Regions from separate parts of the Homo sapiens genome. Here region 1 is linked to region 2. A link means that fine-mapping ties the variant in region 2 to the expression of a gene that starts in the linked region. Tissue or cell type: whole blood. Region 2 holds a variant in brackets; the other region holds the start of a gene. Each region is shown on its reference strand, or each on the opposite one. Region 1 holds the start of SIRT6 (sirtuin 6). Region 2 overlaps ZBTB40 (zinc finger and BTB domain containing 40).

Region 1 (5,524 bases), not on the chromosome of region 2:
CCTACCCTTTTTTCTTCTACCTCTGACTGGAGGATTCAATCACACCCAAAGCAGGGGGTAATAAGACACCCAACAGAGGAGTTCACAGGCTGCTTGGGAGAAGACAATCCGTGGGCTTGGGGGAGGGAGAAACGCCTGCTAAATTTAGGAAGCTGCTTGCTGGAAGAGGTGATGGTAAATAAGAAGGGCCTGATGGCCGGGTGGGATGTTGAGCACCTGCCTTGGAGGAAGCTAGGCAGGGCACAGGCCGGCAAGTGGGAAGTGCGTGGGTGAACGAGTGCATGTGTGTGTCAGGGTACCTGGGTAGCTCCGCAGCCTGGCTAGGACTCAGCACGGCTTCTTTCTCCCACATACAAGGGCTCAGGGGCCTGGGGCCATAAGGGGATCCTCCGTCCTGGGCCTCTCCCACCTCCTTCCTCCCCTACCTCCTGCAGCTCCAGTGCCCCGAGCTCCCGGCCACAGTGCCCACTGCCGGCTCCGGTTACCCACTCCCAGCTGGGCCACGAGCAGCTCCAGCCGCTCCACTCTGACACCTGATCGGCTCTGAGCAGGCGGCCGCCCCAGGGGGCCGGGGATGAGCCGAGGGAGGAGACAGGCTGGCAGCGGACTGCCTGTTGGCCAACTGGCTCTGGCGGGAAGACACCCACGATCTTCCCTATCATCACTGGACTGATTTCAGTTTCTGGAAGGAGCCATGCTCTTCCTCTTTCTCAGCCTTTGCACTTGCTGTTCCCCCCACCAGGAACATTCTTTCTGTACTTCATGTCACCCCAACCGGCTCTACCTGACTCATGCACTCTTTATTTATTTATTTATTTATTTTTGAGACGGAGTTTCATGCTTGTTGCCCAGGCTGGAGTGCAATGGCGCGATCTCCGGCTCACCGCAATCTCCGCCTCCTGGGTTCAAGCAATTCTCCTGCCTCAGCCTCCCGAGCAGCTGCGATTACAGGCCACCACACCCAGCTAATTTTGTATTTTTAGTAGAGACGGGGTTTCTCCATGTTGGTCAGGGTGGTCTCGAACTCCCAATCTCAGGTGATCCACCTGCCTTGGCCTCCCAAAGTGCTGGGATTACAGGTGTGAGCCACTGCGCCCGGCTCACTCACTTTTTAGATCTTTGCTGCAACATCCCCTCCTCCAGGAAGCCCTCCCGGATGCCCCCAGCCTGGGTCAGGTGCCTCCTGTGAGCCCCCTCACTGCCCTGTGCCCTCTGCATCACCCATTGCACCCCAACCACACCATGTCACCATTACCTGGTCACATGTTTGTGTCCACCCGCAGCCACCAGGGCATAGATGGTACCACCTTTGCTCTCCAGTGTGCCCAGTACAAAGTAGGTACTCAACACATGATTCTTAAATGAGTCCTCCAGGCCACCAGCCCCATTGACCTTGAGCAGGACCTGTCCTGCAGAATGCAGAACCTCCAGTTGGATGATACTCAGATAACTTGGCCGGACGCAGTGGCTCACGCCTGTAATCCCAGCACTTTGGGAGGCCGAGGCGGTCAGATCACCTGAGGTCAGGAGTTCGGGACCAGCCTGACCAACATGGAGAAACCCCGTCTCTACTAAAAAATACAAAAATTTGCTGGGTGTGGTGGCGGGCGCCTGTAATCCCAGCTACTAGGGAGGCTGAGGCAGGAGAATCGCTTGAACCCAAGAGGCGGAGGTTGCAGTGAACCGAGATTGCGCCACTGCACTCCAGCCTGGGCAACAGAGCGAGGCTCCGTCACACACACACACACACACACACACACACACACAAATGAGATATTCAGGTAACTCTGCGTGGCATTCAAAACCCTTAGGCTGGGGTCCCTGCTGTCCGGCTCTGTCCTTACGGAATTTACTAATCCGTAAAAGGGGTTGTGGGGACATGGATAGCCTGTGTCCCGCATTTTAGAGGTGACTGGAGAACTCTCACGTAGGCGGCCGCCCCAATTTCCCGCCCGGGTCATCGGGGAGCCCCTTCCCAAGCCCCGCAAACACCTGCATGCAAAGAGGCAGGCTTCCTTCTGACAGCAGATAACATGTCGCCTGCGGCGTCAGCAAGAGGCGCATGCGCCTTGCCGTGGGAGGCCGGGTGCGCAGGACTGGAACGCGGTTCCTCCTTCTTCCCCGCCCCGCCCCGCTTCCGGCGGAAGCGGCCTCAACAAGGGAAACTTTATTGTTCCCGTGGGGCAGTCGAGGATGTCGGTGAATTACGCGGCGGGGCTGTCGCCGTACGCGGACAAGGGCAAGTGCGGCCTCCCGGAGGTGAGCGCGTCTGAGGGTCCCGAGCATCGCGCCCCAGGGCCGCGGGCTGGGAGCGGCCGGATGGCAGGGGGGCATTGTGGGAATATCAGGGGGCACTGAGGCTAGACAATGGGAGGGACTTCCCAGTGAGGAAGGGGCGGGAAGTGACGCCCCTGCGCGCCGGGGGACGCCAACACGCCCAACTCTGTGGTCACCCTGTCGGGGCTGATCGGGGAGAGAGGGGATGTAGTTCCAGGAAGAGGGGACGACAGGCGCAAAGGGAGGTGGGAATAAACACACCTGGAGAACGATTAGGCCTGGGAGGTTTCCAGAGCCGGGCCAGGACGGGGCTCAAATGCCAGGCTGGGGAGTTGGCACTTTATCCTGAGGGTGATGGGGAAGGGTTTTGCCCTGGCGAGGGGACTGGACAGAATGTGCCAGAAAGATCCCTCCAGCCACTCAGAGGGGAAGTGGAGGGATCGGCTGCCCCCTCCACGCACTGTGGGACTTTGGGGAAGTCACTTCCCTTTTGGGTCTCCATCTCCAAACTTTCTGCAAACGAGGTGAAGATGGCCCCATTCCATAAGGCTGGCCCATGCATTCTGACTCATGCATTTAATGAGCGCTGATGGTGTGCGCCCGTCCAGAAGCCCCACTCTTCACTGCTGCTGTTAGTCACTTTATTATTATTATTATTATATTTTTGAGATGGAGTTTCTCTGTCGCCCAGGCTGGAGTGCAGTGGCGCGATCTCGGCTCACTGCAACCTCCGCCTCCTAGGTTCAAGCGATTCTCCTGCCTCAGCCTCCTGAGTAGAGTAGATGAGACTACAGGCACCTGCCACCACGCCTGGCTAATTTTTGTATTTTTAGTAGAGGCGGGGTTTCACCATGTTGGCCAGTCTGCTCTTGAACTCTTGATCTCAAGTGATCCACCCACCTTGGCTTCCCAAAGTGCTGGGATTATAGGCGTGAGCCACCATACCCGGCCTGTTAGTCACTTTATTCCACCAACATTTATAGAGCACTTACTGTAGCTCAGGCACTTTCTAGGTACTAAGGCCACAGCCAGGAGCAACACAGATTAAAAACCCCTCCTTCTAGTAAGGGAGACTGACTAGGGGTTGCATGGAAACCAGTTGGCCAAGGGAGGCATCACTGTCACTGAAGTGACATCTAAGCCACAAGTTACAGGAGGTGAGGGAGGGAGCCATGTGGGTATCTGGGGGAAGAGCATTAAAGGGTGTGGCCCTGAGGCGGGACTGTGCCTGGTGTGATAGAGGAACAAGGAGGAGACCTGTGTGGCTGGAGCAGAGTGAGGCAGGGAGAGGGAGGAGAAGAGGGCAGGGAGGGGGCAAGGGAGGTAGTGCAGGGCCTGGTGGGCCGTGGGAAGGGCTAGGGCTTTGACAAGGCAGGTGGGAGGCATGGAAGGTTGTAGGAAGAGGAGGGGCATGAGGACAAGCTGCCTTTTCCAATCCATTTTCCTCCCTCAGGCAAGACAGGGACAGCTCAGTCTGTGGCTCGTGCGTGGCCTTGCCACTTGGGGGAACTGTTTTGACCCCTCCGTCTGCTCTCTCCCCCCACAGATCTTCGACCCCCCGGAGGAGCTGGAGCGGAAGGTGTGGGAACTGGCGAGGCTGGTCTGGCAGTCTTCCAGTGTGGTGTTCCACACGGGTGCCGGCATCAGCACTGCCTCTGGCATCCCCGACTTCAGGTCTGTGATTGTGCAGGGGAAGTCGAGGCAAGGCCTACCAGGCTGCCAGAGGCTTCCCTGCGAGCCACACACATCTGGGAATGAGAACACATCCATCTGCTTTCCTCCTGGATGTGTCCTGGGTACTCCCTTTAAGATGTGTCCCTTGGCTGGGCATGGTGGATCACAAGGTCAAGAATTCCAGACCAGCCTGGCCAATATGGTGAATCCCTGTCTCTACTAAAAATACAAAAATTAGCCAGTTGTGGTGGCACACATCTGTAGTCCCAGCTACTCGGGAGGCTGAGGCAGGAGAATTGCTTGAACCTGGGAGGTGGAGGCAGTGAGCCGAGATTGCACCACTGCACTCCAGCCTGGGCGACAGAGTGAGGCTCCGTCTAAAAACAAAACAAAAAGATGTGTCCCTTGTCACAACCAGCATTCCACTCACCTCATTGGCCAGAACACGGTCACCTGATCACACCTGGCTGCAAGGGTTGCTGGGAAATGTAGTCTTTCATATTTGCAAGCGTAGCCAGGTGTGGTGGCAGGCACCTGTAATCGCAGCTACTTGGAAGGCCGAGGTGGGAGAATCGCTTGAACCCGGGAGGCAGAGGTTGCAGTCAGCCAGGATCATGCCATTGTACTCCAGCCTGGGCAACAGAGCCAGACTCCATCTCAAAAAAAAAAAAAAAAAAAAAAAAAAAAAGCCAAGGCGTGAATTTCTCCTCCTTCTCCTCTTCCATAACCTGCTGTGGCTCCCCATTGCCAGGCAGTGTAGAGTTCTGAATACCTTGTGCTGGAAGCTGAAGCCCTTCCTGCCCCAGCCCTGAATCACCTCTCCAACTTCAGCCCCTCCTGCTCCTGCTGCAGCCCCCAAAACACTTGCATTTTCTCCTAAACTCATGGGCTCTTCCCAGCACCCAGGCCTTTGTTTACCCCTTCTGTCTGATCTTCCCTCTCACCCTTCAAGAAACTGCTTAGCCTCCTCCAGGAAGCCCTTCCACGTGCCCCAGGGCCCCCACCTCCACGGGGCTTCCCCAGGCCCAGGTACCTCCTCTGATCCAGGCTTGACTCTTGGGGCCAGAGGATCTGTGTCCACCTGTCTCCCCCAAGATCAAGGGCTTCTGGAGGGCAGGGCTTGGGCCCATGTGAGCATCGTCGGGCTCATTGCAGCAGCAGTGTTGGTTGAATAGAATAAGTCATTTTTGCCTTCGTGTGAATTCATCTCTCTCTCTCTGCCTCTCCCTCTCTCTGTCTCTCTCCAATTCTGTCTCTGACTTGCTTTGTCTTTAACTCTTTATCTCTCTGTCTGTGTCTTGTTCTATCCCCCTCTCCCTGTTCTTGCAACTCACCCTCTATTTCTGTTTCTGATTCCCTCTCTCTGTCTCCCTGTCTCTCTCTGTCTCCTGATTTTCTCTCTCTCCAACTTTCTCTCTATACCTCTCTGATTCTCCCTCTGTCTCTTTTTCTGTTCCCCTCTCCCCGTCCATCTCTCCCGGCCTGCCACCTTCAGGGGTCCCCACGGAGTCTGGACCATGGAGGAGCGAGGTCTGGCCCCCAAGTTCGACACCACCTTTGAGAGCGCGCGGCC
Region 2 (5,000 bases):
AAGGAATCACTTAAAGAAGCTCTGGTGGAACCCCAATCTTAAGAAGTGTTTTTGTGATTTATAACTAATTTAAGCTCTTCTGCTTCAGCTTTCTCTGTCAAGTAAACTGAAAGTGACAGAAGAAAATGACAGTGTGGTCTATCTTGCTGCAGAGAATGAAGCTGAGTTTGGACTCTATCTATAAATGCTGTTTTACCAAGATAATGAAACAGTTCAAAGGACACATTCAATCTAGCTAAAAAGAAAAAGGTCTGAATGAGTAATCGAATGAAATCACTAAAGAGGGAATCAGGAACTTTTAGAGCTATAAGCAACTTACTTAAATTGAGTGCCTGAAATTACACTTAATTTGAAGACTAAGGAGAAAAAAAACAGAAGTTTAATCTTTGTATATTTTCTTTCTCTAAGAAGTTCAAAGGACTTAAAAATTTAAAAACAATTAAATCACAAAATGTAATTCTGAGATTAAAGGTTGTTTCCATTGTGTGTGTGTGTGTGTGTGCGTGCGCACATGTGCAACATAAGATCACTGAGAAAAATAAAATCGAGGATCTAGTCCTCACTGTAAATTCAGGGCTTAGCCATTATATCAGTGGCTTCTAAACGTTTTCTCTCCTGAACACTTAAGTCGCTTCCCACGGTTTTAGGAATTGATGCCACAAAAGTACTCTATCCCTATTCCTTCCTTCCAGATATAAAAGTATTTTTAGCACAAAGTTGAAATCAATAACACCAACAAACATAGTTATCTAGTTGCCTTGAGAAGTCATGCCAGCAGTTTTATGAGGATTTTAGCAGCTAGCTGGTGGGAGAGTAAATTGGTACAACCTTCCTGAAGGGCAATTTGGCAATATATATCAAACGCTTGAAAATTTTTATACTCTTGATTCCAAAATTCCACTTCTTAGAAATTATAGTAAGGGAATAATTTCAGAGGTATGGAAAGATTTATGTGCAAGAATGTTCTTCACAACATCACTTTTAATAGCAAAAAAAAAAAGGATACTAATGCTCAATGATAAAGAAACGAAATCCATATTATAGGTATAGACATGTATTAAGATATTAGGTAAAAAGTCAAGTTAGAAAACCATATGTTCTATATAACCTCATCCTGGGATGACTCAAATGAGAAAGAGGGGAACACATGCTTCAGCCTGTTAGCAGTGTCATCTCTGAGTGGAGAAATCTGAATTTTTTCTTTTTGATTGCTTTCCCCATTTTCTACATATTCCAAATGTACAGTACATTTCTATAAAGAGGAAAGGTGTCATAATAATTACAAAATTTCCTTAACATTTTAATTCTGGATACAGTTGTTTACAGTAAAAACTGAGTCAGAGCAGGAATAGCATATATCCATCTGTCCATCGGTCCATCCGTCCGTCCGTCCATCCATCCATCTGTCCAACTGTCCACCCATCCATCCATCCACCCACCCACACATCCATCCATCCATCCATCCATTTTCCTTATGGCTCCATGTGCAAGGCCCTCAGCAAGCTACCGCGAGGAATGCAACAGGATATGAAACAAGCACCTTGACTTCGAGATGCTTACTATGCAGTATGTATTAAAATACTGCAAAGTATAAAGTGCTATGTGCCACAAAAGCATTTTTTTAAGTGCTATATGAATTCAGGAGGAGGGAGGAGACACTTGACACAGTTACCCTTTTTTCAGTGCCAGTCAGGAATTCCTCCTTGGCTGTTTCCAGGGACTCCATAATAGGTCTCAGCTGTGTTACACACTGTATCAGGTCCTCTTTGTGTTCTAGTAACAGAACAGACAAGGTCTTTCCCTCCTCTGTGCTCCCTGGGGGAGAAAGAGTTAGAGACACACAAGAGAAGCTAGTCAATTTGAAGAAAATGACAGCATGGTTTGTCAAGAGAGATCTAACAGAATAGTAAAGTGATTTTCAGCTTATTCTGAGCACCTGAATGCAGAATCGCTTTTACAGAGGAAAATACTTTATTATTCTGTTTAAACTCTATGAAAGGAAAAATGTTTCATTTATCTGTCGAAACACAAAGCTGCAGAGCCAGCCAGAGGTTAACTTCTGGTTGGCAAGGCCACTGCTTTGTACCTAACCCAAATGAGAGAAACTTCAGCCTTAAAGTGCTGTCAGCGAACCAGTCCAACCTGGGTACTCAAGTCATTGATTTGGATGTGTGGCTTTTTGACGGGCAGGAGAACATTGATGATATTCTCCAACTTCAAGGTGTCAGACTAGTTAACTGTGGGATAGAAATGGAGACTCAAATTTAGTTGGTGTATATTTAACATGCAGCTTCTGGAATTTACATGTGAAACTTATGTGAAAACCACTTAATAACTAAGCCACCAAAGAAACATGTCATTGGAACAAACTTCATAGCATCATCCCAAAATAAAACCCTGCCATTCCAATGCATAGGATCTTCTCCTACCTTTTGGCTGCACTGTGTCTACATCTTCTGGCTTCCTGTCTAATAGTGCTGTTTTTACTGCAGGATTAGAATATTGGTACAGCCTCAACAGGGACACAACAGTTTGAACATCCAGGCTTTCCTCTCTTACTTTACCCAGGATTCTCTGGAATGCTGAATGTCCTCCTTCACCCTCGAAACATTTCACTATCATCTATGGAACAAAAGTACCCAGAAAGATAGATTAGCGAACCACAAGAACCATCC[G/A]CTCCTTGCATTTGGCAAACAAGGTCCTCAACAGTTTGATTCCCGCCAGCTTCTCCTGAAGCTCCTCACCCACTGCACTTTCTTCCCCAGCAGCAGTTCCAACAAGCCCTGCGGTCCCATGCTCCTGCCCCTGTCTTCTGGAGGACTCCAATTCCACGACTCCATGCTCTAACCTTGCTCAGGGGTTACCTCTGCTGGGAGGCCTTTCCTGGCCACAGGCCCTACCTCCTCTTCACTGCTTTTAATTTGACATTTGTCACACTATATTATAATTTTTTTTTTCTCCTACTAGACTTCTTGAAGACAGGAATTATGCTTTCTAGGGCTCTGTATCCGCAGCAAATAGCATAGCCTGGCACACAGTAGGGGCTCAGTGAATTTTTAATAAACTTAATGCACTTCTTACCTAATTATACCTTTCTGAATCTGGCATTTTAAGTATTTCATGGGCAGGGATGTCTGAATTTAAATTTAATGAACTGTCATTTTATTATTTGAGAATGCAATTAAAATCTCACAATTTAGGAAAAAAGAATACCTTAAATCATTTACATTATAAATGACAGACTACTTAAAAAGACACGGGCCTTATTAATTTTAGATATAGTCTGTAACAATTAAGGCTAACAGTGTGTTGGCTTGTAGTTGCCAGCTGTAAGAACATATGACTCACATGTTAATTACCCCGTGTGAATGACTGCTTTCAGCCTGAAGGGGCTTCACAGATTCTTCCCCTAACCAACGTTTATACAACAAGCCTTGCCTCTGGCTTTGTGCCACTTGACCTTTCGGTGGCACTTGGCAGTGCCTCTGTATCACAATTCTCTTCCGATTTCAGCAGCACTGAAGTATGTGGGATAAGAACTTGCCTTCCTGACCACTCCTTTTCAGCCTTTCCCACTGGTTCTTCTTCCAAATCCATAACCATTAACAGCACCTACGACTGGTCTCAATCTTTTATTTTTTTCTCCTTTTATATGCTCCCTTTTGAAAAGCTCTCACATGTATAGCTTTAACTATCACCTTTATGCAAACTTCTCTGAAAAGCAGCTCTAACCCTGCACTATTTCAATCCAGAGCTGCCACACAGATTCTGCTGGACACACCTTGTCCTCCAGAGGTCTCAGGGGCGCATATAAAACCAAACTCATCATCTTGACTCTTCTAGATGCTTCTAAGACATCAACAACCCCAGTGGTAAAATAAACAAAATTAGCATTCCTTTCTTTGGTTTGACAGAACATCTCTCACGCAAATGCGAGGAAGGTCAATTGGAAGGTAAGGTTCACATTTCTGCTTTAGCAATAATGAATTTACTTGAAAAAATCTGGTAACCAAAACTGAATTTCACGTGTACAGTCATATGTATAGGCTTTATGTTTCTACTTGACAAAACTACAATCTACCTTTGATGTTTTTTAGTGTCAAGATTATAAAATAGAAAAATTTTCTCACCAGAGTCTTTAGAGAGCAAAAGGTTAGTTTTCTACACACACACGTCTCCCCACCACACTAAAGGAGCTCATGAATACTGTATCAACACAGCAAAATTTAGCTAGACAGCTGTTATTACAAATTCTGGTAGTAAGTATATGTTTAAGATTTTTATTTAGAGAGATTTTATCTTTCTCCTCTCCTCCCAAATAGAAATTATAAACGAGTTAGACCTTGTGTTTCTTGGCTTTGCTTTAGCTTGCTTCCTAAGCACAGGATGTCTGTATAAAGCTAAATTAAACTTTAAAAGTTTCCTGTGTTTTTCAGTCATCTCCAAAAGTACACATAGACAAAACACAGTTTAATAATCCACATCAACATATCACTAGCGTAAGAAACTTCTGAGAACCTAAGGTAACTCATCTTGTATTTAAAAAATAATAAACAAAAAATGAAGACGTCAGTTGAAAGCTAAATTAAATCAACTTTTCATGCTTTTGTTAGTTGACTTGAAATCTCTTTAAAATGCCTTTTCACTGACAGCAGTAGGGAACCCAAGGCAGGCAGCATCTAAAATGGACCCTAATACCTGACTCTGGGTATTCATGCTGTTGGATTGAACCTCGTGACTTGCTTCTAAGAAGCAGAATATGGTAAAAGTTACAGGATGCTACTTTTGAGGTCAGGCTAGTTTGACTTCCATCTTGCCTGTGTTTTCTCTCTCTGCCCTTGCTCTGTGAGATGCAAGCTGCCATGTTGTGAGCTGCCCTACGGAGACACCCATGTGGCAAAGAACTGGTCTCCAGCCAACAGTCAGGGAGTAAGCTTGGAAGTGGATCTTCTGAAGCCTGCCAATAGCCATGAGAGTGGGCTTAGAAAAAGATACTCCCC

Evidence for each region. PIP is the estimated chance that this variant, and not a neighbour inherited with it, causes the effect. A credible set is the group of variants that fine-mapping cannot tell apart.
Region 1: SIRT6 starts here. The variant in region 2 is the best candidate, but not a certain one, in a credible set for the expression of SIRT6 in whole blood (TOPMed, PIP 0.85).

The regions. Positions count from the first base shown.
Region 1 is chr19:4,179,209-4,184,732 of GRCh38, reverse strand. SIRT6 (sirtuin 6) reads left to right here and starts at 2,170. Exons shown (of 8, transcript NM_016539.4): 1 at 2,170-2,259; 2 at 3,824-3,951; 3 at 5,447-5,524. The coding sequence starts at 2,194. ANKRD24 (ankyrin repeat domain 24) reads right to left here and starts at 2,044. Exons shown (of 22, transcript NM_001393985.1): 1 at 1,993-2,044. RefSeq lists enhancers at 1,987-2,036, 2,107-2,196.
Region 2 is chr1:22,499,114-22,504,113 of GRCh38, reverse strand. It overlaps ZBTB40 (zinc finger and BTB domain containing 40), which reads right to left. Exons shown (of 18, transcript NM_014870.4): 4 at 2,430-2,622; 5 at 1,673-1,815. Among named protein-coding and RNA genes, the nearest start is that of ZBTB40, 50 kb to the right of the region's middle. The variant G/A (reference allele first, on the strand shown) is at 2,676.